Homo sapiens: one gene and its partners. The protein of the gene in region 4 purifies or fractionates together with the protein of the main gene of each other region. This does not show direct contact. Each region holds a gene or a part of one and is shown on either strand. Other genes may lie near its edges.

Region 1 (7,853 bases), on a different chromosome or scaffold from region 4:
TAAATTTTGTTTTTATTATTGAGATTGAGTATATTTTGATGTATAGTGGACATTCATGTCTTCTCCAAAATGCTTATTCTTACTCTGTTCATTTTACAACTTTCGTTATCTTATTCTTATTGATTGTATGATACAGCCACTTAACACTTTGTCATATATATTTATATATTTCAATATATAATATATATATTTAATATACAACATATAAATATTTAAATATATATGACAAAGTGTTAAATGGCTATATCATACACAAACCTATTTATATTTATATTTTATATATATTTAAATATTTTTCTCTAATTTCCTTCTAAGAGAAGATTTCCCTCAAAATGTATGGGTTTATGTGGCTTTTCTTAATGCACAAAGGTTAAAATGTTTAAATTGTCAAATCTGTCAATGTTTTGTTTTTTATTTCTGACACTGGTGTCATCATATTCATTTTTTAGAAGATGGCAAAGTTTAAATCTCTTCAAGGAGTATGTATTAGTCCATTTTCACACTGCTATAAAGATACTACCTGAGACTAGGTAATTTGTAAAGGAAAGAGGCTCAATTGACTCACAGTTCCATATGGCTGGGGAAGCATCGGGAAACTTACGCTCATGGCAGAAAGTGAAGAGGAGGCAAGAACCTTCTTCACATGGTGGCAAGAGAGAGAAGTGCAAGCAGGGGAAATGCTAGACGCTTATAAAACCATCAGATCTCATGAGAACTCACTCACTATCATGAGAACAGCATGGAGGAAACTGCCCCCATGACCCAATCACCTCCCTCCATGAACACATGGGGATTACAATTTGAGATGAGATTTGGATGGGGACACAGAGCCAAACTGCCAAATCATATCAGAGTAGTTAGTTGTCATTCAGGTAAAATCTCAATCCCTCAGTCTCTGTTGCATACCACATTCTATTCTCACCATATTCAGCCAAATTAACATCCCACAACTTCTAAAAGCAAACTGTGTTTTGGTGAGCTTAGTTTCTTGTATGTTTTGATGCATGGGCTCTGGAGTATTGTAAAGAAAAAGTTTAGGATTCTGACTCAACCAATTATCAACAGTATGAGAAGAGCTTTTTGGGCTTCAGCTTCATATTTAAGTGGGCTCAGAACTAATGTGAGATTAAGTTATGTGTAACAAACAACAAAGCTTAAAATACAGTTGGCACTTAATGAATATCAGTTCTCCAGCCATCCCTCCATGTTTTTGCTTATCCTGGGAAATCTTTCTGTGACATCATTGTCCGCTTCTCCACCTTGCAATACTTTATCTACCCTTCTGGGCCAGTTTTATCCAGACTCCTTCACAAAGGTTTCCATAGAACAGAGAGCTTACTATGCATCTTACACAGTTTGGGTGTCTTTTATTTTAATGTTTCAGTCATGTTTCATGAGCCAAACTGTAAGGTTCAGGAATGTTTGTCTTAATGCTTGGCACTTGAATGCACCCAATAAATAGTTGTTGAATGTATAAATAAACAAAAGGTACACGGGATGGGAAATACTGGAAAATTGGACATATATTGTAATAAGACTAGCTAACAATTTGCATTTAAAAATTAGCCAAATTATTGTGCTTGGGACACAAAATTTGTGACCAATGTGAATTTGTTTAGTAAATGTAGCCATATATATCTTGCGTTGTACCATTGAATATTCTAATAGTTCAATATACCATTGGAATATACCAGCGGAAAATATCATTACAAATAGTTTGACATACTGTATTTCTTCAATTTTAAGAATAATTTGGTACCACATTTTAATTTCTTTGAAACTGGGATGTGTCTTACTATCAAATAAACATCCAGTGGCCAGGTGATAGTGATGATATAGTTGGCATTGCCTATTTTTGAACATGGGCATAAATGAATTGTTATCATTTCTACTAAATTCTATGAAATTTAGTCCTGTTGTGTCAAAGCCATATGCCAAGAAACATAGTTGAAGGCAGGAGAAATTACCAGATATGACAGATTAGGTGAAAGAAATTCTAAAGCAAAGAGAGGTTGATATAACCAATTCATGTATCATGCAGGACTATGGTTAAGGCATGAAACTACCATTTGTGAGAAACTTTCTCCTGGCCATTAATAGAGAAGCTGCATAGCTTGTAGTGACATACAATTCAGTTGAACAAGAAAACTATGTGTTTAGTCAAATGGGATAGTGCCAGCATCACAACTGCAGAATGAGTGTCATTGTCTAGGAGGCAAATCCCAGAAACAAGATTGGAACATCCTTTTAAGAAATGGTGCACTATCAACAATATTGTGTGGAAAAACACACATGAATGCTTTTCATGAAAAGGTATTCAGAAGAATCAGGCTCAATGTTCGGGACTTTGGTAAATTCATTTTGCTTATATTTTCCTTTCCTACATACACACAGTACTAAGCAAATCTATGTATAAGTGTCTAAAAGCACTAAGTATAAAGTAAAAATTCGATATGACATAACATATTGTCATAGTTTTATTAGCAGCTCTTTTCCTTTCTTTTGAGTGGAACATATAATTGAAGATAGGTTAGATTTGAATAGATAACAATAAATTGAATAGGCACTAGGTCTGTGAGTTTGTAAACTTCCCTCAGTGAAGGACCAGAGCTTGGTGTTTTGTTGTTGTTTTGGTAGGTATTTTGTTGTCTGTTGGAAATGAGGTAAGAAGATCCTATGAAGTCGTCACAAATATTGGTTATACTTGTTTGTAGAAGCAACATAATTTCAAGAAAAGCCACCTTCTCACATCACCTTTTACAGCTTCTTAACATAGGTCACAGGTTGCATTTTGAATTAGGTGAATACTCCATTTGTCAGTCGGTAACCACTTCTGAAATTAATTTATTATATTTCCCCAATATAACAGCAATACATGTTGGTATAGAAAACACCTTATATTAAAAAAAAAGTCTATGTACCTACATGTGAGTATGTAATCAGCCATGTCTTCCACCCAATGTGGAAAATTTCTTTCTTAAAAATTTTCTTAGGCCAGGAGCGGTGGCTCACACCTGCAATTCCCAGCACTTTGGGAGGCCAAGGTGGGTGGATCACCTGAAATTGGGAGTTCGAGACCACCCTGACCAACATGGAGAAACCCTGTCTCTACTAAAAATACAAAATTAGCCGCGCGTGGTGGTACATGCCTGTAATCCCAGCTACTCGGGAGGCTGAGGCAGGAGAATTGCTTGAACCCTGAAGGCGGAGGTTGCGGTGAGCCGAGATCGCATCATTGGACTCCAGCCTGGGCAACAAGAGCAAAACTCCGTCTAAAAAAAAAAAAGTTTCTTATACATTTTTCGATGCCGTTTCTTTTTTTCTTTGTTTATGAAAATGTCTCAGATCAAAGTAATATATCTTCATTGTCCAGGATATTTCGTTAAGTATAGAAAAATATAAAGCAGCATGAAACATACTATCCTTCATCTCACCACCCAGAGATCACATCTTAATATTTTTGGCCATTGCATTCAATCTAGGGCAAAAACAGGCAGCATAACTTGCACACAGTGGATGCTCACTGCATCCCTGCTGAATGCATGAATGCAGAAAGAGAACTTGGAGAAGGGCCCATTTGTCTTGCTAATAGAATCAATTATACAGCTCTTATGGTCTAAAATTATTTGTCTTCTCAAGTTTGCCTCATTATTGTCACACAGCAGGAGCCTGGCCAAGACACAGCCATCTTTCTACTATTTGACAACCAAGCACTTTGGAAGGAATGGTCACTGTTTTCACTTCATTCCTGTCATTCATTCTCTCACTCATTAAATAAATATTAAGTGCCCACCATGTGCCGGAAATACGGAGAAGAAAAAAAAACATGACCCCTGCCCTCATGCAAATTACTGTGTAAAGACAAAAGACAATAAACATAAACACATAAATATATATATATACAAAATTTTATAAGTGCAAAAATAGAAGAGAACAAGTGGCTGGGAAAATAAACGGGGCAATGGTATAATTAAGGAGGGGACAGGGAAGGCCTTTCTGACGCAGTGACAAGTCGGGTCAAGAAGGAACGAAAGGGAAGGTTATGAGGCTGTCAAACTTTGAGTGTGGCCAAAAAAATAATGAAGAAAGTGATGGAGGAAAGACTAGGCTGAAGAAGTAGGGCAGTAGTGAAGTGTCTTGTAAGCCATGCTAAGGATTTTGAGTTTTATTCTATGTACTGTTGGAAACCAATACTTTTTTTGTAGTGTAAATTGAGCTTATTTTTCACAGATAGGTTTCAAGATGCAAAGCATACAAGGACCAAAAATAATTATATGAAAACTCTCCCTCCCTCCGGTTTCCTAGCCACCCAGTTTCCCTCTTCAGAGCTGCCAGTCTTTCCTACGGAAAGACTCTAGGCACAAACAAGCCCATCTATCTGTTTATATTATAATGCATTTTCAGCACTGGGACGAGCCCATCTGATTTAAGACCACCTGAATGCTGAGAGGGCATGACTCTGCGTTAGAACTCTGCGCTACTGCCCACGCATCTCACAAAGTCTACTACGCCGCGCGTTCTCGGTTTCAACGCACCTCCAGGATTCAGGGCTTCCTAAGCTGCAATTCAGCAGGGCTCCCTTGCTTGTTCTCACTCTGTGCCCCCGGCAACGACCCCGCGCGCCTACACTCCCGTGCCGCCTCAGCTACTAGTCCGCAACTTCTAGCCCCAAAACGCTGGAGCTCAGAACCCAGCTCAGGTGCGCTCGTCGGTTTCCCAGGGAGACTGGGGCTGATTGTAGGCACGCGGGGGCGGGAAGACAGCTTCTTGCTTCTGGCTGCGATGGAGGCGGATCTGGGCGGGGCCGAAACGGGGGCGGGGCCAAGTGTGGGGGCGTAGTCAGGCGTGGGGGCGGGCCGGCGCCGGCGCCGCGGTCGGCGGCAGCGCTCTCCTAAGCTCTCGCGGCTGCGCTTCGGTCCCGGACCCGGGCCACCCACGGGGTAGTGGGTGCTCCTCGGCCCCGGACATTGCAAGCCCCAGAAGGTAAATTTGCGTGGGAGCCGCGCACCTGGAGCGCGAGGGTACCCATGATGAGGGCGGGAGGCTGGATGGCGACAGAAGGGAGCGTCCCGCGGCGAGTTTCCCAAGAAAGCTGAACTCGTCCCAAGTTTCTTGTGCCTCGGCTTGCACTCAGTGAATGGGTGGCGGGCTCATTTGCTGCGGGTGGTCTTTTGGCGCGGGAGGGACGCGGAGGTGATTGGATTAATCCGCCTGGGCGGCAGCCCAGATTTCTGCCGGGAACCGCGCACCGCAGTGGTGCAGTTTTTGCCCGAGAAAGGGCGGGTAAGTGCGGTGCAGTCGTGTCCTGCGCAGCAGCAGGGGGACCGCCGGTCTGGGAGCACGCGAGTCGGCCAGGCGTCCCCGGTTGTCCAGAGGCACAGTTTCCTAACTTCTTTCCTCTTTAGGCAAGACTAACTCGGTGTTGCTCCTCCCGGCGCTGACTTCGAGGCCCGGCTATGGACGGCGAGAGCGAGGTGGATTTTTCTAGCAACAGCATAACCCCTTTGTGGCGGAGGCGGTCGATTCCTCAGCCCCACCAGGTTCTGGGCCGGAGCAAGCCGAGGCCCCAGTCCTACCAGAGCCCCAACGGGTTACTAATTACGGATTTCCCGGTGGAGGACGGAGGGACGCTCCTCGCAGCGCAGATTCCCGCCCAGGTGCCCACCGCCTCGGACAGCAGGACGGTACATAGGAGCCCCCTGCTTCTGGGCGCCCAGCGGAGAGCGGTGGCCAATGGTGGGACGGCATCCCCGGAGTACAGGGCTGCCTCTCCTCGACTTCGACGGCCCAAGTCACCCAAGCTCCCCAAAGCGGTGCCTGGCGGCTCCCCGAAATCCCCAGCAAATGGCGCGGTGACCTTGCCTGCGCCGCCGCCGCCGCCGGTTCTGCGCCCCCCGCGGACTCCTAACGCGCCCGCCCCCTGCACCCCCGAGGAGGACCTTACTGGGTTGACTGCCAGCCCGGTGCCTTCGCCCACTGCAAATGGCCTTGCCGCTAATAACGACTCTCCTGGGTCAGGTTCGCAGTCCGGCCGGAAGGCAAAGGACCCCGAACGGGGGCTCTTTCCTGGGCCCCAGAAAAGTTCTTCGGAACAAAAACTCCCCCTCCAAAGGCTGCCCTCCCAGGAGAACGAGCTCCTCGAGAATCCTTCCGTGGTTTTGAGTACAAACAGCCCCGCCGCCCTCAAAGTGGGGAAGCAGCAGATCATTCCGAAGAGTCTGGCCTCGGAAATTAAAATAAGTAAATCCAACAATCAAAATGTGGAGCCCCACAAGAGACTCCTCAAGGTGCGCAGCATGGTGGAGGGCCTAGGAGGACCCCTGGGTCACGCAGGGGAGGAGAGTGAGGTCGATAACGACGTGGATAGCCCAGGGTCTCTGCGGAGAGGCTTGCGGTCCACGTCTTATCGCAGGGCAGTGGTCAGTGGCTTTGATTTTGACAGTCCTACCAGCTCGAAGAAGAAGAACAGAATGTCCCAGCCTGTTCTGAAAGTGGTGATGGAAGACAAGGAGAAGTTTTCCAGTCTGGGAAGGATAAAGGTAAAAGTGGGCAGGAGTGTGGCACGCCATTCACTAAGCGGAAAGTAAATGTGTTGGGAGTGGGGAGGAGGAGCGTAGAGGAAACCCGAAGAAGTCATTCCGTTTTAATTCTGTGTTTTGCTCTTGATTGCTAGTGTACATCCAGCTCTTGGCCACTTTGATGCTGGCAGGCACAGCCGAGTTTAGTGCAACTTTGTGGGAAGAAGTGAAATTCATCACTTTTAAATTTCTAAGCTCAGGCAGAATTGGGGGGGACAAGAGTGAAATATGGCAGATTATTGGCTGAGTGAGTCTTTACCACTTTTAAAAGAGATAGCTGAAAGGGGGAGGAGCATGTTCAGAACCGCACTCTGCAGTCAAGTTGTCTGGAGTTTGCTTAGAGGTTTCAGTCAATGATAGCTGTTATCACAGCTGATTCAGAAAAATACTGATTCCTGTTTGAGCCTGTTGATTATTTTTTGCTTTTACTTACTGAATTTTGAGTGGTTACTACGCACTTGATGTCATTCAGGTAGAATGTGAATTTGAAAATCAGTTGCCAGGATCACAAAAGACATAAATATTTTGTCATCTTTTTTGTTGCTTGTTTTTGTCACCGTGGCCTTTGGTTGTGTTTTATTCCCGTTGTATGCCCATTCATCCTTGAGTGCATGTAACAGATTGGCAGCTGAAAACTTAAGGTTAGGGTGGACACTGTGTGGTATTGCTCCCCTATATTGTCCCATTAGCTGCACTTATTAAAATATTGTCAAATATGACATAAAGAAACAGGGAAAACTGAAGAGGGGTATTTTGGAGTGTGTGCTTCCTTCCACAGAAACAACACAGGTTTCAGCAATAAGGCAGATTCTTTTTGGCAGCCACATTTTTTCTTGGTTAATCAGAGCACTGGAACCAGTCTATATAAATGGCACATATGCAAAACACAAGCAAGCCTGTTTTATTTTAGAGCCCGTGGTCTTAAAGAAAATAAATTACATAACATTTTATGTGTTTTTTCCAACTCTGCAAGTATAGCAAAGTTCAATTTAACAGTGATGGTGAATCACGAGTTGTAAAATGAGCTGACCTGCTAGTTATTTGAGGATTCTCAATCTGTTTTGACAGGGTGTGGGGGATCTTGTACATTTTATTTCATTGTTTCAGTGAATTGTAGTGATCAAATGAGTGAACTCCTCCAGGGCTCAGCTTCTGTGCGCTCTTGGAAATCTAATTAATGTAATGACTAAAAAAAAGTATTTTTACTTAAAATAGCTGTATTTTCTATTTGGCTCATTCATACATAGTTTGCTTTTCCTTTTTTTTTTTTTTTTT
Region 2 (7,022 bases), on a different chromosome or scaffold from region 4:
CACCAAATTGACTTTTAAAAAATCTGACAATAGACTGGGTGCAGTGGCTCATGCCTGTAATCCCAGCACTTTGGGAGGCTGAAGCAGGTGGATCACCAGAGGTCGAGTTCGAGACCAGCCTGGCCAACATGGTGAAACCCCGTCTCTACTAAAAATACGAAATTAGCTGGGTGTGGTGGTGGGTACCTGTAAATCCCAGCTACTCGGGAGGCTGAGGCAGGAGAATTGCTTGAACCTGGGAGGCAGAGGCTTTAGTGAGCTGAGATCACAGCACTGCACTCCAGTCTGGGTGAGTCAGAGGCAGACTCCGTCTCAAAAAAAAAAAAAATCTGACAATATCAAGCATCAGGATATGGGGCAACAGGGACTCATATAGGGGTGTGAATTAGTATAGCTGCTATTGAAAAATAACTCAACATGATCTTGTAAAAATGAAGTTGGGAAGATACACATGACCTATGACCTAGCAGTTCTACTCATAGATACATACTCCTGAGACTTTTCTTGTACTACAGTATAAGGGGACAATCTACAAAGATGTTCATTGTACTGTTTGTAATAGCAAAAATCCAGGAAACAACACAATGTCTATAGATACAGAATGGATGAATAAATTGCAGTATATTCACATAATGGAGTAGCATACAACAGTGAAAATGATTCAGCTACAGCTGTACATAACACAGAATGAAAAACGTGAAGAAATTAACAGTATATTATATACAGAGATAAACTTCAAGGGAATGATAAATATAAAATTCAGAATGGTAGTCACTCAAGGGGAAGGACATACAGGGTTTCAAAGACAGTAATTTTCTCCGGGTAGTGAAAATGGTGTTTGTGGCATTACTATTCCTCATGCCTTACCAATTTCATAAATACTCTTTTTATCTGCAAGATTTACTTTTAAAATTTGCAAAAATTAAATCTTATTGGAAAGATAAAATATTTAGAATTAATCAATAATGAAAGTATTATATAGCTTGATACAACAAAACTTGTGATTTGCAGCTGAGTGCCTAATATGTATCTGGCACTGTATCAACCACTGAGGATGTAACAATAATCTTGCCTCCCTGGAACTTCCATTGTATTTGTAGAAGACAGACAGGAAAATCAGCTTCTGAACTTTACAATGTAGAAGTTGATATGTAACATGGAGGAAAAGAGAATAGGAAATGTTTGGGTGTGGGGCAGGAAGATTTCCTCGAGCACACGGCATTCAGCAAAGACTTGAAGGGGGATGAAAATGTGAGCCATGTAAATATCCAGGAAAAGAGTGTTCCAGACAGAGGGGACTGCTAATGCAAAGGCCCTGGAAGGGATGTGTGCCCAGTGTGTTGAGGAAACACAGCCCAAATGCCTGAAGTAGTGTAAGCAAGGGCAACAGGGACCCTGTCAGGCAATAAAGAGACTTTGGCTTTTACTTTGAATTGAGATGGAGAGAGACTTAAAACATGCTTGAGCAGAGGAGGGAAGTAATCTTTAAACAAACAAACAAACAACAACAACAAAAAAAACAGAATCTCTGCTTCTTGTGTTGAGAGTTGACTGAAGGGGCCAAGGGCAGAAGCAAGGACACCAATGTATTACAGTGTTCCAGCAGGGAGATATCAGTGGCATAGACCAGAGTGGGAGTGTAGAATGGGTAAGAAGTGGTCATAGTGTAAGTATATAGTCACATGCTGCATAATGACGTTTTGGTCAATGACGGGCTGCATATACGGCAGTGGTCCCATTAGATTATAATACTGTGTTTTTACTGTACCTTTTCTATGTTTAAATGTGTTTAGATACACAAATGCTTATCATTTTGTTACAATTAATTGCCTGCAGTATTCAGTACAGTCACATGCTGCACAGGTTTATAGCCTAGGAGCAGCAGGCTGTACCACAGAGCTCAGGTGTGTCCTATCGGGTTCAAATCAGCCTATTTATGCTAACTCCAACCAGCTGAGAAGTTTCACAACGAATCAGTGCCAATTAAATGCTTAGGAATTCACGATTTATTGTGTGGCTTCTACACAACAATCATGTAACTCTATCCAACACACATAGGCATTAATAGAGAAGGGAAACACAGCAAGTATTCTGGGAGACCAGCACACTGACTGAGAAAACCAGGTTTGGTTTTCCTCAGAATGCCCACTGACCTGGTGGTGGGTAGCTGCTCTTTTCCCAGAGGGCTTACCACAGCCAAAGGAAAGGAGGCCTCAGAGTTCTCATGGGCAGAGATTCTGCAGGCATCTCAGCCATGATTGGCTTTTACGGCTCTCCACAGACATCTCCATGGCCATTATCTTCAGCTGACTTTTGGCTTTACTTTCTTGTCAGGTGTCAGGGATGCCTGGCCACAGCAGATGCTATCTTATCACCTCAGTCCACCACACATATGCTTACTACTCTGAGTGGTCAGTGATTTCACTGTAAGCTGAGTCACTTGTCATAAGTGACTCCATTATGAGACATTTATGATCATAAAACATAATTATATATCAGTGCATAATAGGCTATACCATCTAGGTTTGTGTAAGTGCACTCTAGGATGTTTACACGTGACAAAAATCACTTAACAACATATTTTCCAGAACACATCCCTGTCATTAAGCAATGCATGACTGTATTTTGAAGGGTTTACTAACTGATTAAATGTGGGCTAGGAAAGGAAGAGACGAAGATTATTTCATTTCTGCCTTGGTAACTGAAAGAATAGGGTTATTGTGAACTGAAATGTAGGTGACTATAGAAAAGCAGATTTGAGGGGGAAATTTGAGGAACTCAGTTTTGGAGTGTTAAGTTTCAAGATGCCTTTTAGACATCCAAGTAGATATGTATAGTAAGCAGTTGGTTATGTCTTGAGGTCGGGGCAGAGATCTGGACTAGACATATAAATTTGAGAGCCATCGACAAAAAGAAGATATTTAAAGACATAAGATCGAAGGTCTTACTTAGAAAATAGTTCACATAAAAAGGAGGTTTGGAGACTGAGTCCAAGGCACCCCAATATTAAGAAGTTAGCAAATTAAGAGAAACCTACAAAGGAGTCTTAGAAGAAGTGGCCAAAGAGGTGGGGGAAAACCATGGTTTGTATTAGTGATCTTGAAAAAGTAGTATTAATGGAAAGAAGGGAATGAAAGCTTGATTGAAATGGGTTTAAGAAGATAGGAGGAGGACGTGTAATCTCTTGAGGAGTTTTTCTACGAAAGGAAATAGAAATGTTTTAAGTAGGGGGGAAGTGAGGTCAAGAGAAAGCTTTTTAAAAAATAACATCATATTTGTATGCTGATGACAGTAATCTAGAAGAGAAAATTTTGTGTAGGAGAGAGGCCTGGAAAGAAGTCCTTAAGAAGGCAGGACTCTAATATGCAAGAGAAGGGGTTGCCCTTAGATAGAAATGTGCACGTCCTTCTGCAGACTTTGGAGGGAAGACAGAATATATGTGTACAGATTATTGTATGCAGTAGATACAGTAGTGTAAGCTTGTGGAAGTTCTCATCTGATTGCTCCTATTTGCTCGTTGAAATAGGAACCTAGGTAATTAATTAGCTGAGAATGAAGATGGAGAAGAAAGTGTTTGAGGTTTGAGGAGAGAGAATTATGAAACAGCCATCCAAGAGAATGGGAGAATAAATGAGCTAAGGAAATATGATTGCCAGATGTGGTTCACTTTGAGGTTTGCTGAGGTCATGAATTTGAAGCAAGAATAGATATTTCAGTAGATATTACTAATGCTTTGTCCAGATCCTCTTGGATCCCTTTCTAGTGTTGCTGTACATGTCCTGCCTTTGTTGGTTTTTGCTTCCAATAAACAGCATCTATGCCTCTTTTTTTGGTAAACTGCCCTCAGGCTATTGGAGCACCCTTTGCTCTTACTGTTGTAGTACCTGAGGTGGACCTTAACCAATAGTGATTCAGAAGTATGAAATTTTCATTATCCTTGCTTCAGAGACATGTTTTGAACTTTGACACGGCAGAGTTCCCCCATTACCTTTACCCCCACCTACACACTGGTGAGATCAGGCTGAAGCTACCCTCTAAGGGACTTTGTCTTAGATCACACCTTTGCTTAGCTTTCTCCCCTTTCTTGACCTGCTTCCCCAAATTTCTTATTAGTTCCCCAAACATTTCCTTAATAAGTCACTTGTATATAATTTTTTTTCTCATGATCTGTTTATTGGGAACCTAACCTAAAACAGTAATTATGACTGTATGTGTCTTTCTTCAGCTATGGCCAGTTATATCAGTGTAAGCAAAAAAAAAATGGATTTAACATGGATGGGAGTTTTGCCAAGCAAACACCATGAAGTGAGGAAAGGGCAAGTGAAGTATACTGAAGGTGTATTCAAGGTAGTGGTTATATGATTTGCTATCAAATTTAACCTAGTTAAGGAAAGATTTATTAGTCTGTTCTCATATTGCTAATAAAGACATACCCGAGACTGGGTAATTTATAAAGGAAAGAGGTTTAATGGACTCACAGTTCCACATGGCTGGGGAGTCCTCACAATCATGGCAGAAGACAAAGGAAAAGCAAAGGGATGTCTTACATGAAGTCAGGCAAGAGAGAATGTGTACAGGGGAACTCTCCATTATAAAACCATCAGATCTCATGAGACTTATTCACCATCATGAGAACAGCACAGGAAAGACCCACTGCCATTATTCAATTACCTCCTACCAGGTCTCACCCATGATACATGGGAATTGGGAATTATGGGAGCTACAATTCAAGATAAGATTTGGGTGGGGACACAGCCAAACCATATCATTCCACCCCTGACCCTTCCCAAACGTCATGTCCTCATATTTTAAAATGAATCATGCCTTCTGACAGTCCCCCAAAGTCTTATTTCAGCATTAACTCAAAAGTCCACCGTCCAAAGTCTCATCTGAGACAAGGTAAGTCCCTTCTGCCTATGAGCCTGTAAAATCAAAAGCAAGCTAGTTACTTCCTAGATACAATGGGGGTACAGGCATTAGGTAAATATACCTGTTCCAAATGAGAGAAATTGTCCAAAATAAAAGGGGCTACAGGCCCCATGCAAGTCCAAAATCCAGTGGGACAGTCTTAAAGTTCTAAAATGATATCCTTTGACTCCATGTTCACATCCAGGTCACAGTGATGCAAGAGGTGGGCTCCCACAGTCTTGGGCAAAGGATATGGTCGGGGGATATGAGGTGAATGGCAGTATGATCAATGGATGGTAGGTCAAGTATTGATTGAAGGATTGTTGGAATTGAGGCACTAGCAGGAGTGAGTGGAAAGGTAGGAGGTTAGAGGTAGAAATGTTTAGAAACTAGGATTATTCAGTGCTTTTACTGTTGATATTGCTAAAGTGTAGGGTGTAACTCCTAGAATTACTGGCTGAGATAGTGTCAAGGAAAATATCACTGGTGGAGAAAATTCAAGGAACTGATGGGCCTAAATGTTAAAAGGGACATCTGTGTAGATTTTGAAATCAGTAATTAAGACAGGAGTAGTGTTAATGAGAGTAATAGTGAATTATGCCAAGATCCTTAAGAAATGAGGAGAAATGATCTGAGAGTTAGTAGGTGACTGCAAGAAAAAGGGGTAGAGGGTGGCAGAGTCTCATGGCCTGAGATTCAAAGCTGAGGGAAGAATTTACACAGGAGGGAGAGCAAAGAGTCTGGAAGTAGCAATGAGTTTCAGGAAGGATACAGACTCCATCCAGGCTTACTAGAAGACTGATGTGGGAAAAACATCTACCACTTAAGAAGCCTACAAAGGAAACAGGATCCTCATGGAATATTCAGGTTTTAGTTAGAGCAAGGAGGTGAAGGGTCTATTCAGAGAAGATATTGAAGCTGTATGGAATTGTGAAAGACTGTGAGTTCCAGGGGCACAGTGGAAGGATATCAGGAGTTGAGGGGGTGGAGAAGATGTGGGAGAAAATAGGGAATGTGCAGAGCCTTATGGGAATTACAATGCAGTAAACAAGTATAAAAGGGGAATTTGGGACTTCTGGTATTGATGATATAAAGAGGGATAAAGAACACAATGAAACCAGTTCCGGTGGTCTCAAGGTAGTAGTGCTGTCAGTGATAGGAAATGGGAAGTTGTAGGTATGTATTGGGGCTGGGGAGGGACAGTCTTACACTAAGTTAAGTAGTCTGGACTCACTGTTTTTCTTATTTTTTTAGTGATGCCAACTTTAAAAGCCTTTGTCCTCTATCATGAATTGTACTTTCTACCTATTTATCATGTGGATAAAGTGCAACTGTATTTCCTTACCCTGTGTATATTCAGATATTCAAAATGTCTAATAATATATGAAATAGCAGCCCAAGTATGATTTTTTAAAAAAACTGTCACTAAACTGACTTCCTACAAATCAGAGTAGGATTTCATGACTGTGTGTTCATGTTCAAACTTCATGTTGAGTTTTGGTTGCCTTATTCTGTTTCTGTAGTCATGGTTCCAGAAGACACACCTCTAGAGGATGGGCAACCACTTCTAGGGAAGTCCCTAGCAAAGCACCTAGCATGGTGCTAGCTCTGTTACACTGTGATAACGGCAGGGTTTTTACCCTCTCCAGCTCTTTTGGCTGATGTTAAATTCTTCCTTCTCAGTAATGAGATTCTTGACCAGTCATTGATGACTCCATTGCACTTGTCAGGAGTCTTGTGTTTGACTTCATCTTTGATTCTGCTTTGCCGTCTCTCATTTTTCACTGTGGCCTATTGAATACATAGGATCTGAGCAACTTCTTACAAGAAACTCTGTCTCTTTGTTTCTCGTTTTCCAGCTTTGTACTTCTATGCCTCTTGGACCAAATACTCAGTGTTTCCATGGGCAAACACTGGGTCATTTGTCTTTTAATCTTCTTTTTTCCTGATCTCTTATCAACAGCAAACACATTTGAGATGCTGTTGGCATCAATATAAAAAGTTATTTAAATTTGTGGAAATCCAAAGGGTTTAGGAGGAATGCCCGTGAGTTCAAATTTGCCGGGCTGGTTGTTATCCTTCATCATTGCTCACTCAATTTTGTAAACCTTAAT
Region 3 (7,682 bases), about 51 Mb from region 4:
CTAGGGGAGGCCGACCACAGACCTCCATGGCTGGTTCATATTGGGTCAGCAGGAGTTGAGTCAAAGGCTCAAATCTCAACCCCCTCTCCTAGCAGGGGGGTCTCAGGCTCCACAGCAATCCTGGGGTGAGCAGGACAGATTCCAACAGCCAGTGCCATCCCCCCAGCCTGCCAGACCACTCTCCAGGGCTGCCGCAGGCTCACTGAAGGTGGCACACGGGCAGTAACCGCTACGTTCTCAGAGGCCAGGCCTAGAAGACTCAGCTGCCTACTGGTCCTTTCTCTAGGGGTCAGCACCACACACATACACCCACACTTACGGAGAAGTCAAGCAAAAGCCAGAGTGGGCTGCTCCAGAGCCACTCCCACCAACTCTGAGATTCTGAGCACCCCATCTCCCCTCTCGACCAGGAGCCCCTCACACACTGCCACGACTGCCTCAGTAGGCACAGGGGTGTCCACGGCTTTGACCCCACAAGTATCAGATGCTCTTACCATCTGACCACCGAAGGGTCTCCAGCTCTGGGCTAGATCCGTATCAGTTGCCCTATTGCTGAACCAAACAGGGCCAGGAAGGGCCCCACCCAGGGGACACCCTTTCTGGATGGCACAGACCTGGGCACAGAGAACACCCTCAGGACAGTAGAGACCTTGCACCAGTCATCTTCAATGAAACAAAAAAATATAGGAGGTTGATACTTGGGCTATAGCTACAGACAGCTGCAAGGGTGGGGGCAGTCGGCATGATCTGGTCATCAAAGTCAGGGTGGGTCTTTCCTTAGCCACAAGGCCTGGGAGCAGACAGCAGGCAGATATCCCTCTGCAAGCACAGAGCCAGGCAGCCAAGCCCTCACTGAGACAGGCACTGCCGCACCTCACTGCCTGCTCCAAATGATGCAGAGATGCTTACTAGAGTGAGAGACGAACCAAAGGGTGCAGAAGCACACACAGTGCGGGCAGCAGCCCCAGCCTGAACCCTGCACGGACCTGACCAAGGACACCCCATACTCCTAAGGAGGCTCACAATATAGACCAGGAATGAGCAAATAGCAAACGATAGATACAGTCAAGCCCCCAGTTGTGGGATGCCAGCCAGCAATGGTTGTGCCCAGATGTCAGACCCCCAGTGAGGGGGATCTAGATGTGGGGTCCTAAAAAGTGGAACTAGCCACAGAACAGCCTAAGCCTGCCTGGTAAAGGCACAGGCGCCAGTCAGAGTGGCCAGTCCACAAAACAGTCAGTCCCACACACCCCCGCTCCATTCACACATGCTTCACACGCAGTCTTAGCACATGCACACGCTGACACGTGTGCATACACACCTCTTGCTGCACCCACACCATGCCCACTCCTTGTGACAGAGGACAGCATCCCTGGCACAGATATCTCAGATCCACCCCCCGCCCCCCACCACCCCTCACCCCACCTTCCAAGCCGGCTGTCCCTGGGACTGAGGTTGAGGGGCACCACCACAGAGAGGATGCCGGAGGAGGTGGCCCCCTCTGAGGGGACCAGCACCTTGGGCGAGAGGTGGCAAGACAGAGCCCAGCATCTATCCTGAGGCCAGGAAGCACACACTCACCTGGAGCTGCAGTGGAGGCCTGCAGGCTGGCCCGCTTCTTAAAGGGATATTTGGCCTTGGGCTTGCCAGAGCCAGATGGATAGGATGCCATGGCTGGGACCACGGCGGCGACAGCGGGGGAGTCTGAGCGGCACCGGCTGGGGCCTGGCTCTGCCACATCCAACCCCTTCCTCCGCCCCGCCCCCAGCGGGAGTGACTGATGCAGGAAGCAGCGGCTCCGCAGGCGGAAGAGGCCCTGGCCACGATTTCTCATGTTGTCTAGGCAACCTCGGGGAGTGGGGCCTCCATCTCTGCCCCTTATCCCTCCCCTGCCTCCTCAGTCCCAGGAGTGACGTGACTGATGGTGGCTGGGCCTGGCGGGGGGCGGGGAGGGGGTGGGTAGAAAAGAAGATGGGGAAGGGCCAGCCCCCAGCTCTCCACTAACCCACCAAGAGCCCTCACCCCATCATGCCAGGGCTCCCGGGCAAAGAAGCCAAAGTCCAGGCTAGCTGGTCCTTCCAGCTAGCCTGGAAGAAAAAAGAATAACAAACAGGAATTCAGCAGCGAGCGAGTCCAAGCTCAAACACAGTCCTCCCGGGGCAGGGCAGGCATACTCCGTGAAAACCCAGCACCCACTTTCCTTCCACATCTGACCCTCAGCTCCCGGGGTAGCCCAGCTCTGGGAGGAGGGGGAAGAACCGAGAATCCCAGCCCAGGAGGGAGGGGCCTGTCCCGGGAAAATTCCACCGTCGCCAAATAGCTACCTCCCAGGAAGGCAGGAAGGCCAGGAGACCCCCTTGTCTGGGGGTCTGGGACAGAGACCCTAGCCTCTTTGGATTTTTCCTCTGTCTCTGCACACTCTGGCTCTGCTCCCCAGGCCCTCCTGGGAGGAGCTGACCGCCTTCCCTAGGTCCTGCTGCTGTGCTGTGACTCCCACCCTCTTGTCACTCTGGCCACAGCACTTCTCTGTCCCAGAGACCCTCCCTCCAACACACGTACACACACTCACCTGAGGCCATGATGCCCGAGTTCCGAGGGGAGGCTGCCCACGAGAAGTCTGTACAGCAGAAAGCCCGGGTCCTGAGGGACGGCAGGGGGATCGGGCCACAGACCCCAGCCAAGTCACTCCAAGGGCCCCTGCCCTGGCACTGAGATGGGGAAAGTAAGGCAGTCTTTCAAAATTGCCAGCTGGCCGGAGGTGGACTCCCGCAGACCTCGGCAGCCGGACTGGCCTCAAGGCGACCCCGGTGTCGCGACCACCCAACCCTGCAATCGAGAGGCTGGTAGGCCACGTGCTCCCAAGGGAGCGGGACCCGAAACTCGTCCAGATTTCTCTCAACACTCCCTGGGCATTCAGGGTCGGACTCCCGCGGCCGGACTGTGGGGGAGTCACGCAACAGGTGAGACCCCACCAAAATCTCGCCGGCTCCGCGCCAGGCTCTGCGGCCCTTGGCCCCGCCCCCGCCTGGCCCCGCCTCCGCCTGCCGACCCCGCCTCGCCATTTTTTTCTCTTCCTGGGCGCCACGTGGGCAGCCACCACACCGCGGTAGGGCTGGCCTGAGCCGACCCTGGGTCTTGGGCCAGTTCCGTGCGTCAGCTTCCTCATCAGTAAGATGGGGTAATGACAGTACCTCACTCAAAGGGGTTACTGTGAAGATTAAACGTAAAGTCCCTTTACACAGTGCCTGGCACGAAGTGAGGGCCCAGTGAAAGGTAGCTGTTATCATTGTCCCAGGATTCATTTTAAGCAGAAGTCCTGCCCCTGCAATCTCACTTGGTCGTCTGTTTTCTTCCGGCCGGCGTAGGTAGGAGGCTGTGCCCTGCAATTCTGGCTCCCCTTCCCACATTTCTGTATTTGGTGGTTAAGAGCTTTAACTCTAGCCAGAATGTCTGGGTTCAAATCCAGATTTCACCTACTTCCTGACTGATACTGGGCAAGTTACCTAACTTCTCTGTGCTTCTATTTCGTCTGTAAAATGAGTGTAAGAGTACCTGCTTTATATGGTGGTTAAGATAAATGAGTTAATATAAGTTAACTGCTTAGAACTGTGCCTGGCCTGTAGTTAGTACTCAGTATTCATGTATTACCATTGCTTTAGCCTTGGCCTTGGTTCTCTATTGACACTCACAGGTTGATTCACTTGCAGCCGTTCTGGGGTCTATCCAACAAGCATCCCCACTGCCAAGGGGTAGATAATCCGACCTAAAGGGAACTTGTGGAGGGAAGTCCCTAAGACTTCACTGAATATAATTAAATGCATTAGCAGGAATTAATCTCTTCCCTATTTTCCCTCTTGTGGGAGGCCTTTGCCCCCCACACCCAGTTGTTCTAATGCTGTTTGTCTGGCTCCTCCCAGTTCTTACCACTCCCACAGCAGAGATCCTTCCCAAACTCTGCCTCCCTCTTCTCTCCCCACGCTGGATTCTGGACCCTGAACCCTTTTCTCCACCTGCATCTGGTGCCACTTCCATTGATCCCTGGCTACTGTTCCCTGAACAAACTTAAAAAAAACTTGGCCTCTTCACCTCACACAGAATCCATAAAACTAAAAAGAGAACAGAGATAACCAGGTTTACCTAATCAAAATAGCAAAGACTAAAAAACAAAAAACCAAAAAATAAACGCTAATGCAGGTTGGCAAGGGTATAGTTAGTGAGATGGGAGACACACACACACGTACATGTGCACAAACACATTACTGGTGGCCTTGAACACTGATATAATCTTTCTGAAAGCCATCTGGTAATATAGAATCAAAATTTTCAAAAAGGTTCTTATTATTTGACCCAGTAATCAACTTTCTGGAAGTTGTTTTTCTAAAAAGAGCTGCCAGAAAAATATGTATGCAAAAAGTTGTTCAGCACCACAATGTGTATTGCATAGAAAAGTTAGATACTTTAAAGGTCGAACAATAGGGGAATGTTTATGTAATATTCATACCATGAAATACAGCCATTAAAAATTGTTCTTGGAGAAATGTTTAATGATGTGGAAATGTTTACAATATAAAGTTAGGTAAAAGAATGGATGCAAAACACTATACACAGTATGGTCCTACTTATGTGATATACATGGGTAGAAAAGAAACACACCAACAAGTTTACCAATGATTATCTGTAGTGATGGAATTATGGGTTATATTTATTTTCTTTATATTTATTTGCATTTTAGAAATTATAATACATACCCATAACTTTTATAATCAAGGGGATAGAAATCAACAAAAATCTGTAAAAATCTGTAATTGCCTCCACAGTCCCCCCAACCCAGCCTTCCCGGGGTCTTAACCCCAGACTTAAACTATTCTGTTTACATTTATGGCCCACTGAATTGGTCTTGGGGCGCTTAGGGATTTTGAGGCTGATGGACTCTCAAGAATGAATAAAATGAATCTCAAAAATCAAGCACCATGTAACTACATAAATGTCATGTATCTTCTGATAAGATGCAAATGTTGACATAGTTTTAAAGATAGTATCTTGCATTGGGCCAGGTCTCTTGAGCATCCTGCTTAATGCAGACCTACCTACCTCAGCAGCCAATAGGTGGCAATCCTTGCCCTCCACCCAGCCCAGGCAAACCAGTTCATTAGTCCCTTTATGCTAGTCCCCTAGTCCCATCTGCAACACACCCTTCACTCTACAACCCTCCCCTATTTCCAGGTCATCTGGTGTATTGTTGCTGCTAGGAAGTCGGCCCTGATTATAGTTAGGCATCAATCCCTCCACCCACTCCATACCAGCAAGAATCTCAGTGAGGTTTCATTGTCTACGCAGAACAGAGCTTGGGAAATAAAGGAGTGAGTCATCCTATGGCCTGGGCTTTTTTCACACTGAGGCCTTAACATTCATTGCCTTTGAGCCTCTGAGATATTCCCTAGCTCCAAACACAGCTTCCTCCCCTCCTAGCCTGTTCCCCACATGGCTCCTTAACTGGCCCTCCCGGAATCCCAGCTCCCTAAAGATGGTGCACTCCTGTTTCTCTGAAGAAGTGCTTTTCTTTGCTTCTGGACTTCAGCTCACTTGTGATGTCCGCCTCCCTAGCTAGGCCAGAACAATCTTCACAGATACTAAACTTGGGAGAGAATATCTGCAGCTCCAAAAAGGTCCTTGGCCAAGGCAATTTCCCAAACCATACCTTATGCCTAGGCCCTTCTAGAAACAAGCTGTTCAGCTCTGGTTTCTCAGCTTCTCCCAGCAGCCAGCTCCCTCTCCCCCTCACCTCAGTCACCCAGCATTGTGTTTATAGCACCATACAGCTGTTTCCATCTATACTTGTTTATAAGACCCCAGTGGATTTTAGTCAAACCCCTTGCCATTGAAGGCGCTTCACTGGCTGGCTCCAATTTCCCTTTCTTGTCTTCATCTTCACCTCCCAACCCTCCACTCCATGCACCTTTCACTCCAGTCCAGTCACATCAAAGTCCCAGTCTTCTCTGAGCACACCTTGTACTTTGTGCCTCTACCTCTTTTTTCATGCTCTTTCCTTTCCCCAAAATGCGTATCTCCCACTTCCACTGTTATTCTGCTTCTCTGTGGAAAGTCTATTCATTTCACAATCACCCTTTTCTTTCTTCCGCTGTAGAACTTTGTCAGTCTGACAGTCAGATGTGTGTTTGATTGCCTTTCCTACCAGGGGTGAATGCTAGGTCTTAAACAGCTCTGAATTTCCCAGCACTACTGCAGTATCCCTTTAACTCATTTGTTTTTCTGTGAATTTCCCCCACCTCTGCCTATGGACTGGAAGGTCCTGAAGGTAGTTCCTCATCCTTCATGTCCTCCCACTCCATCTGGGACAAGTCTTTACCCACAATTCACTTAAGACAAGGCTTACCACGGATGTCAGACAGATCCCTTAACTCAGGAAACATGCCCAAATCACTAAGAAACAGTGATTTACTTTTCATTCAAAATGATAATGGTTATAAAGGGCTGTGAATCAAAACACCTGAGCTCTGGCTTGGCTTCTGATACCAACTTGCTTATTAATGTGAGGATCACTTTTCTGTACTTCAGTTCACTCACCTCCAAAATGGAACTAGCACTACATACCTTATTTACTTCATCAGGAAACTGTTCGTAAATGTGATCATAAAGTGGGACAGCCACAGGAAAGGCACAGGAACTGACGATAGAGGCAGAGGCAGGAGGTCACAGACATCAGGATGATGTATGCACAGTAATGGATCTGTACTCTCAGGCCAGGCGAGGGCTAGCAGTTCCCTCTCTCAGCTTAGCAGTGAGAAAGGGGAACTTCCATCCAGTAAGTTAGGGAACAAAGCAGAAGCAGCACAGAAGTTTGCAGAGGTAGTAGCAGAAAAAGGAACAAGCCCACTTTCCCTGTGTGTGAAACAACTTAGTGGTTCCTTTAACAAGGGCTGCTGTTATAGAGTTCATGCATTTGTCCATGCTTTCTCTCTCTGGCTACTTATGTGGAAGTAATAGAAAGAAGGATCACCGGTTTGTCTGTTTACTAGGCCATATAACTTTGTTTTTTTGTTTTTGAAACAGAGTCTCACTCTGTCACCCAGGTTGGAGTGCAGTGGCGCAATCTCGGCTCACTGCAACCTCCACCTCCCGGGTTCAAGCGATTCTCATGCCTCTATCTCCCAAGTAGCTGGGTGCATGCCACCATGCTGGGCTTTTTCTTTTCTTTTCTTTTCTTTTTTTTTTTTTTTTCTGAGACGGAATCTTGCTCTGTTGCCCAGGCTGGAGTGCAGTGCCTCCCGGGTTCAAGTGATTCTCCTGCCTCAGCCTCCCAAGTAGCTGGGATTACAGGTGCCTGCCACCATGCCTGGCTAATTTTTGTATTTTTTTTAAGTAGAGACAGGGTTTCACCATGTTGACCAGGCTGTCTCGAACTCCTGACCTCAGATGATCTGCCCATTTTGGCCTCCCAAAGTGTTGGAATTACAGGCGTGAGCCACCATGCCCGGCCTAATTTTTGTATTTTTAGTGGATACGGGATTTCACCATGTTGGCCAGGAACTCCTGACCTCAGGTCATCCACCCACCTCAGCCTCCCAAAGTGCTGGGATTACAGGCATGCGCCACTATGCCCAGCTGACTTTAAATGAGTTACTTAACTCTCAAGTCTCAGTTAATCTAGTCTGTAAATTGGG
Region 4 (7,022 bases):
AGGTTTTTTTTGTTTGTTTGTTTGTTTTTTGACGAGTCTTGCTCTGTCACCAGGCTGGGGTGCTGTGGCGCGATCTCAGCCCACTGCAACCTCCGACTCCCTGGTTCAAGCGATTCTCCTGCCTCAACCTCCCGAGTAGCTGGGATTACAGGCATGCGCCACCATGCCCAGCTAATTTTTGTATTTTTAGTAGAGGAGGGGTTTCACCATGTTGGCCAGGGTGGTCTCAATCTCCTGACCTTGTGATCTGCCCGCCTCAGCCTCCCAAAGTGCTAGGATTACAGGTGTGAACCACCATGCCCGGCCAAAGAGTTCTTTTTTCAGCTCCACAGCTGGACCGTCTTAATAATATGACAGCACAGATGAAGAGTTTTAAACCTTTTGTTGGCTTTTCTTTCGTATCTTTTTGGCAAGGGCACATGAAAATTAAGTACTGATAATATCACAATGAAAGCAGCTGTGTCATTCAGACCAGTGACCATTTTAGGTTTGATGAACTTTTCATTACCATCATCCAGGGTCTAAATTCTCCATTGTAAGGTAAGGATTCTCCAGGGTGGTGGTGAGGTGGGTTGAGATTGCATTTGTATCATTTGTGTTTTTATGAACTCTGAAGATCCATGTCGGGTGAAGGAAAGGATGGGAGGAGAAAAGGAAATACTTTGAAAGAGGGATAACTTGGACTGTTTATTTCCTTATGTGCTGGGTAAGAATGTCCAGGTGACATCTATATGTAGTAAATCAGTATTTCTAGTCTGTGGACCACACTGTAAACTTTTTATCTTTCTAAAGTTTTTTTTATTTTTGTAGAGATAGGGTCTCACTTTGTTGCCTAGGCTGGTCTCAAACTCCTGGGCTCAAGTGATCTTCCCACCTCAGCTGAGTAGCTGGGACCGCAGGGGCATATCACCATACCTAGCTAATTTTTGGTTGTTTTTTTTTTGTTTGTTTGTTTTTTTAAAGAGATGAGGTCTTACTTGCCCGGCTCAAGTGATGCTCCCATCTTGGCCTCCCAAAGTGCTGGGATTACAGGCATAGCCGCAGCACCCAGCTTGAAGATATTTTTATATTTCCAGGGTTTTAGGTGTTTACTTAAGAATTGTGACATCTTATTAGGTAGTATTTCCTAGGATGATTAGAGTGGGAGGCTAAGAATGCTTGTGACCTTTTAGTTCCCACCACCAACCTCTTAAAGTGCAGTCTATTTATTTATTTTTGAAATAGGATCTCACTCTGTCACCTAGAGTGCAGTGGCACTATCATGGCTCACTGCAACCTCGACCTCTTGGGCTTAGGTGATTCTCCCATCTCAGCCTCTCGAGTAGCTGGGACTACAGGTGCACGCCACCGTACCTGGCTAATTTTTGTATTTTTTGTAAAGATGAGGTTTCACCATATTGCCCAGGCTGGTTTCAAACCCCTGGGCTCAAGCAATCCTCCTGCCTCAGCCTCCCAGAGTGCTGGGATTACAGGCGTGAGCCACTGCACCCTGCTAAATGCAGTCAATTAAATGTATAAGAATCTGCCAGGCTGAGTGCGGCTGGCTCATGGCTGTAATCCCAGCACTTTTGGGAGGCCAAGGTGGGAGGATCACTTGATCCTAGTTGTTCAAGTCCAGCCTAGGCAATATTGAGACCTTGTCTCTACAAAAAGTTTAAAAAAAAAGCCAAGCATGGGGCAAGTACTTGCAGTCCCATCTCCTTGGGAGGCTGAGGTGGGAGGATTGTTTGAGTCCAGGAGGTAGAGCTGAGATTGCGCAGTGATCACTGCAGTGCGCTGAGATTGCGCCTCTGCAGTTTAGTATGGGCAACAGAGCGAGACCTAGTCTCAAAAAAAAGAATCAGTTCCAGTGCCATGGTCCTTAGTGTGGAGTAGGACCAACCTAAGACAGAAGCTTGTCTACAGAGAGCTGAAAGAAAGCAGCCTCTTTGTTGCCAGTTTAAAACAATACTGGCATTTTAAAAGCAAACAGATTCTAGTAGGAGACATTGTATAGAAGCGCACCCTGTTGTGAAAGACTGGGATCTTGAGTTTCGTGCTCTAAGTCTTGTATTCTATCAGGGGAGTAATAGGCTTTTAAAATCATAAAGTGACTATTAAAATGCTTTCAGTAGATAGATTCATTACTCCATTATTTCTACTGTATAAAAGTTTATTCTAAACATGTCTAGGAAATATCCAGATTATAAAAGAGAAATAACGGTATCCAAACCAGACTTTTTATTGCATAACATTGGTGTTAGAGTTAGTTTTTAAGTCTCTGAGATTGAATTAGCTTTTTTTTTTTTTAAAGCAGATTATCAGTGAGCTAAGATAATCTGCTGTTTACCCTCACCTATTTGGAACACAGGCAACTGAATTAATTGAATCAGCAATAGGCATGGGGTAGTGACTTTGTATATTTTCATTTTAGAGCCAAAAGCCAGTGAGTTTTAGATTAGCTTTATAGTAATATTAAAAACTTCATCTTTTATTTTTACAAATGTAGCCAAGAAACATCATTGCTGTTAAAATCAGTCAGAAAAGGAGGCTACTTGCTCTTTATTGATTTAGTCATTCTGCTCTTGGAGTGAGTAGAAAGTCTTTGAAAGCTTTTCAAAAATTAGCGAGTGATGAATTTTATGAATTAGTCACTTCTTTGCAGCAGTTTTTTTTTATCTCTACCTCTGTAGGACATAGTTCCTGGGCCAGAAGCCAGATTTCTCAAGTACCATCTAACCCCAGGAATGTGTTATGATACAGATAAATTAATGAACGGAGGCTGCCTTGAGGTTGCCAATAGGGCATTGGGGAGTAATTAATATGACAAAGATGTCATCTTATTAATGAAATGTATTAATAGTATGTCTAGTGGATTGGGTCAATGCAAACATTTTAGATTAGATATTTGCTGTTTATCCTCTGAAGTTACTGTTTAAGGAAGTCTGGCCAAGTTCTAAAGTGAAGCATACATATTTGCCTCACGTGCCATTTTTTTTTTTCTTCCTGGCTTTTTCTTAGCCATCTGGAAAGCTACTATAGGGTTTACCTCTAATGGTAGTCAAGTTACTGTATTCCTCTGGTGTACTTTAATGATTGCCACATTACCAGGTATGTTTTGTTAACCTTACTTAGAATCCAACATTAGACCCTTTCTTCTAACCTAACCTGTAGGAAGGCACTTCTTGAGGTTTTAAGCCTCTCTTTAATGTTTTATTGTAAGTTGTACCTTGGGAGCATCATTTTTTCATCTTAAATCCTCTCCAGTTTAAGAAAAATTTGAAATATAAATGGCAAAAACTGTTAATGGCAACAGACTTCTGATGTAAATGTAAATTGAGATGGAAACAAAATGAAAAGTAGATTTCCCTAGGAATTAGTTAAACTGAGATAAATGGTCCTGGATGTTTTTATAGAAAGTTCTCTTAGCCAGGTGCAGTGGCATGTACCTGTAATCCCAACTACTCGGGGGGCTGAGTTGGGAGGACTGCTTGAGCCCAGGAGTTTCAGGCTGGCAACATAGCAAGACCTTGTCTCTTAAAAAAAAAAAAAAAAAAAAAAAAAAAAGTTTGCTTAGTTCTGCTGCTGGAAATTAACACTTAAGGGTTAGAGTGCATTCCTGACATAGTCTGAAATACTGTTATTAGAATTAAAGCCAGAGGCCATGCACGGTGGCTTACATCTGTAATCCCAGCATTTTGGGAGGCTGAGACGGGCGGATCACCTGAGGTCAGGAGTTTGAGACCAGCCTAGCCAACATAGCAAAACCCTGTGTCTACTAAAAATATAAAAATTAGCCAGCTGCAGTGGCATGCACCTGTAGTCCCAGCTACTTGGGAGGCTGAGGCGGGAGAATTGCTTGAACCCAGAAGGCAGAGGTTGCAGTGACCCAATATCACACCAGTGTACTCCAGCCTGGGTGACAGAGTGAGACCCTGTCTCAAAAAAATAAAAATAAAAAAACAATAATTAAAGCCAGTAAACTATAAACACTGGGCATTTTATGTTACCAATAGGGAGAGAAGGCATTAATTCAAAGAAGGAACAAAGTTCCTTATTCATAGTTTGAATCCTCATCATTATCCATGGTGATTGCTTTGCAGTCTTCCATCTTGGGTATCCTCAGAACCTTCAAGAGGGAGAAGAGGCCAGGTGTGGTGGTACATACCTATAATCCCAGCACTTTGGGAGGCCAAGGTAGGAGGATTACTTGAGCTCAGGAGTTTGAGACCACGCGGCAAGATAGTGAGACTCCGTCTCTACGATAATAATAGTAAAAAAATCTATTTTAAAAATTAAAAGAGGGAGAAAAACTTAGGGAGGCTTATATTGTGGGTTCCTGGGTAGATTGTCTTACTGCAGTTCGTAGAACATGAATACTTGAAAGAAGATATTAACGGAGCTCTCTGAATTCTTTAAAACGCCAGAAAGGGTAAGCAGATTTCATAGACTTGGGACTGTGTCCTATATTATATACGATGTTTGGAGAATCATTGCTGAGTGGTAAAGAGGTCCAGGATTTTCTAGGAAATGTAGTCTGGTATAGAGATGGGAAACTAGAAAAATAATATAAATGGCTACTATGTACAAACAGGCTCTTAGCATACATTATTTTTAATCCTCTAAATTCCTGCAGGGTGGTAATATTATCCCATTTTACAAAAGAAAAACTCAAAAGCAGGTGGTAGAGGTAGAATTCAAACCCAGGTCTGTTTGACACCAAAGCCCTTTTCTTTCTTTCATAACACATGCTGTCTTTAAAAATAGGACTTTTCTTTTTTCTTTTTTTTTTAGATGGAGTCTTGCTTTGTCGCCAGGCTGTAGTGCAGTGGCATGACTTGGCTCACTGAAACCTTCCCCTCTCGGGTTCAAGCAGTCCTCCTGCCTCAGCCTCCGAGTAGCTAAGACTACAGGCGCATGCCACCATGCCCAGCTAATTTTTGTATTTTTAGTAGAAATGGGGTTTTACCATGTTGGCCAAGATGGTCTTGATCTCTTGACCTCGTGATCCACCCGGCCCGGCCTCCTAAAGTGTGGGGATTACAGGCGTGAGCCATGGTACCTGGCCAAAAAAAAAACCAGGGCTTTTCAAAGCCAAGAGATGAAGCTGAAAGGTAGAATTAAATATTTCTTATAAACATATGTATATAAATTATTCAAATGACAGTAGGAATACAAACTTTTTTTATTGTTTAGACATAGTTATGCTATATTGGTAAGCTAATGAGTTTTTAAGAAAACAATTTTTTTTTTTTTTTGAGACAGAGTTTCGTTCTTTGGCCCAGGTTGGAGTGCAGTGGCACAATCTTGGCTCATTGCAACCTCTGCCTTCCAGTTTCATGCGATTCTTCTGCCTCAGTCTCCCCAGTAGCTGGGATTACAGGCATGCACCACCATACCTAGCTTATTTTTGTATTTTTAGTAGAGACGGAGCTTCACCATGTTGGCCAGGCTGGTCTCAAACTCCTGACCTCATGATCCGCCTGCCTCGGCCTCCCAAAGTGTTGGGATTACAGGCATGAGCCACGCACCCATCCCAGGAAATAATTTTTATAGATTTAAGAGATAGCTGAATCCTAGTGTTTTATGATTCTTTACTGGAGAGAAAATCAGCATTCCATTCAATCTCTGAGATAATTCCAGGGGAAAAGCTGTTCTGACTCTTACAGCCTTTTGACAGTATACTGTTCTCTGTATTTTTTTGGAAGCATGGACTATCCTCCTTACCTTCTTGGTTTTTTTGTTTGTTTTTCTGAGACAGGGACTTGCTCTGTCACCCAGGCTGGAGTGCAGTGACCCCATCACAGTTCACTGCAATCTCGACCTCTGGGACTCCAGTGATCCTCCCACTTCAGCCTCCCAAGTAGCTGGGACTACAGGTGTACACCACCACACCCTGCTATTTTTTTTTTTTTTTTTTTTTTTTTTTTTTGAGATGGAGTCTCACCCTGTCGCACAGGCTGGAGTGCAATGGTGCGATCTCGGCTCACTGCAACCTTTGCCTCCCAGGTTCAAGTGATTCTCCTGCCTCAGCCTCCTGAGTAGCTGGAATCACAGGCGTATGCCACCGCGTGTGGCTAATTTTTGTATTTTTAGTAGAGACAGGGTTTCACCATGTTGGCCAGGCTTGTCTCAAACTCCTGACCTCAGGTGATCCACCCGCCTCAGCCTCCCAAAGTGCTGGGATTACCAGCGTCACTTAGACGTCAGCCACTGTGCGCAGCCTAATTTTTAAATTTTTTCTAGAGACAGGGTCTCCTGATGTTGCCCAGGTTGGTCTCAAATTCCTGGACTCAAGCGATCCTCCAGCCTCAGCCTCCCAAAGTGCTGGGATTACAGGCATGAGTCACTGCGCCCAGCCTATCCTCACCTTGAAACCTTTTTATTCTTGACTTCCAGAGGTTTAATTTTGATTATTCGTTCTTCTCAATTTTTCTCTCTGCTCTCCTTTCTCTTCTCTAAGGGTAGGTATTCCTCAAGATTCTTCCCTTGAACATCCTCTCCCAGAGCCTTCTTAGGTAACTAATTGTTTGTTTTAGTGAGATATGATTTACAAGGTGTTTGATTTTGAAGTTTCTCTGTACAGATAATTCACAAGTCTGTATCTCTGGCCTTACTTTATTTAAGTTCCAAACTTAAATTTGTTCGTCAGTACCTTCCTAACATGTCGGCTTGGATTTTAAATTTATTCAGAATAATTTCTCATCCCACCTGCCAGCTTCTCATTTGTGTCACTTGATTTTCTCTGGGCGCCAGACTAAGAACTTGTCCTTCTTAACTCAGCTTTGTAACTGCTTATTGAGCTAAACATTATCTACCTTTACAACGATTCTCATGTTGATCCCTTTTTAATTCCTTTTGCCATCAACCCAAGACAGCCCCTCATTACTTCTTATCTTGGCAACTATAATAGCTTTTAAACTTGTTTCTCTTTCCTTTTCCTTCATTTCAGTCCATCTTATTATCTTTGACAAAATAATTTCTCTGATGCCTGACTGCCTGCCCCCCAACAACAAAGCTTTTATTATACTTCTTAACTAATC

What was found.
Region 1: the proteins of DCAF8 (region 4) and ARHGEF26 purify together in Homo sapiens (affinity purification with mass spectrometry; 2 studies listed by BioGRID and IntAct, with this or other methods). This does not show direct contact.
Region 2: the proteins of DCAF8 (region 4) and ACAD11 purify together in Homo sapiens (co-immunoprecipitation; 3 studies listed by BioGRID and IntAct, with this or other methods). This does not show direct contact.
Region 3: the proteins of DCAF8 (region 4) and AMPD2 purify together in Homo sapiens (co-immunoprecipitation; 3 studies listed by BioGRID and IntAct, with this or other methods). This does not show direct contact.

What each region holds. Positions count from the first base shown.
Region 1 is NC_000003.12:154,116,537-154,124,389, forward strand, and holds the start of ARHGEF26 (rho guanine nucleotide exchange factor 26), read left to right. Parts: upstream 1-4,853; 5' UTR 4,854-4,983; intron 4,984-5,405; 5' UTR 5,406-5,456; coding exon 5,457-6,539; intron 6,540-7,853. UniProt on the Homo sapiens protein: Activates RhoG GTPase by promoting the exchange of GDP by GTP. Required for the formation of membrane ruffles during macropinocytosis. Required for the formation of cup-like structures during trans-endothelial migration of leukocytes.
Region 2 is NC_000003.12:132,649,802-132,656,823, reverse strand, and holds part of ACAD11 (acyl-CoA dehydrogenase family member 11), read left to right. Parts: intron 1-2,153; exon of another isoform or gene 2,154-2,394; intron 2,395-7,022. UniProt on the Homo sapiens protein: Acyl-CoA dehydrogenase, that exhibits maximal activity towards saturated C22-CoA.
Region 3 is NC_000001.11:109,615,166-109,622,847, reverse strand, and holds the start of AMPD2 (AMP deaminase 2), read right to left. Parts: upstream 3,012-7,682; 5' UTR 2,580-3,011; coding exon of another isoform or gene 2,570-2,579; intron 1,935-2,569; 5' UTR 1,741-1,934; coding exon of another isoform or gene 1,673-1,740; coding exon 1,582-1,672; intron 1-1,581. UniProt on the Homo sapiens protein: AMP deaminase plays a critical role in energy metabolism. Catalyzes the deamination of AMP to IMP and plays an important role in the purine nucleotide cycle.
Region 4 is NC_000001.11:160,252,537-160,259,558, reverse strand, and holds part of DCAF8 (DDB1- and CUL4-associated factor 8), read left to right. Parts: intron 1-7,022. UniProt on the Homo sapiens protein: May function as a substrate receptor for CUL4-DDB1 E3 ubiquitin-protein ligase complex.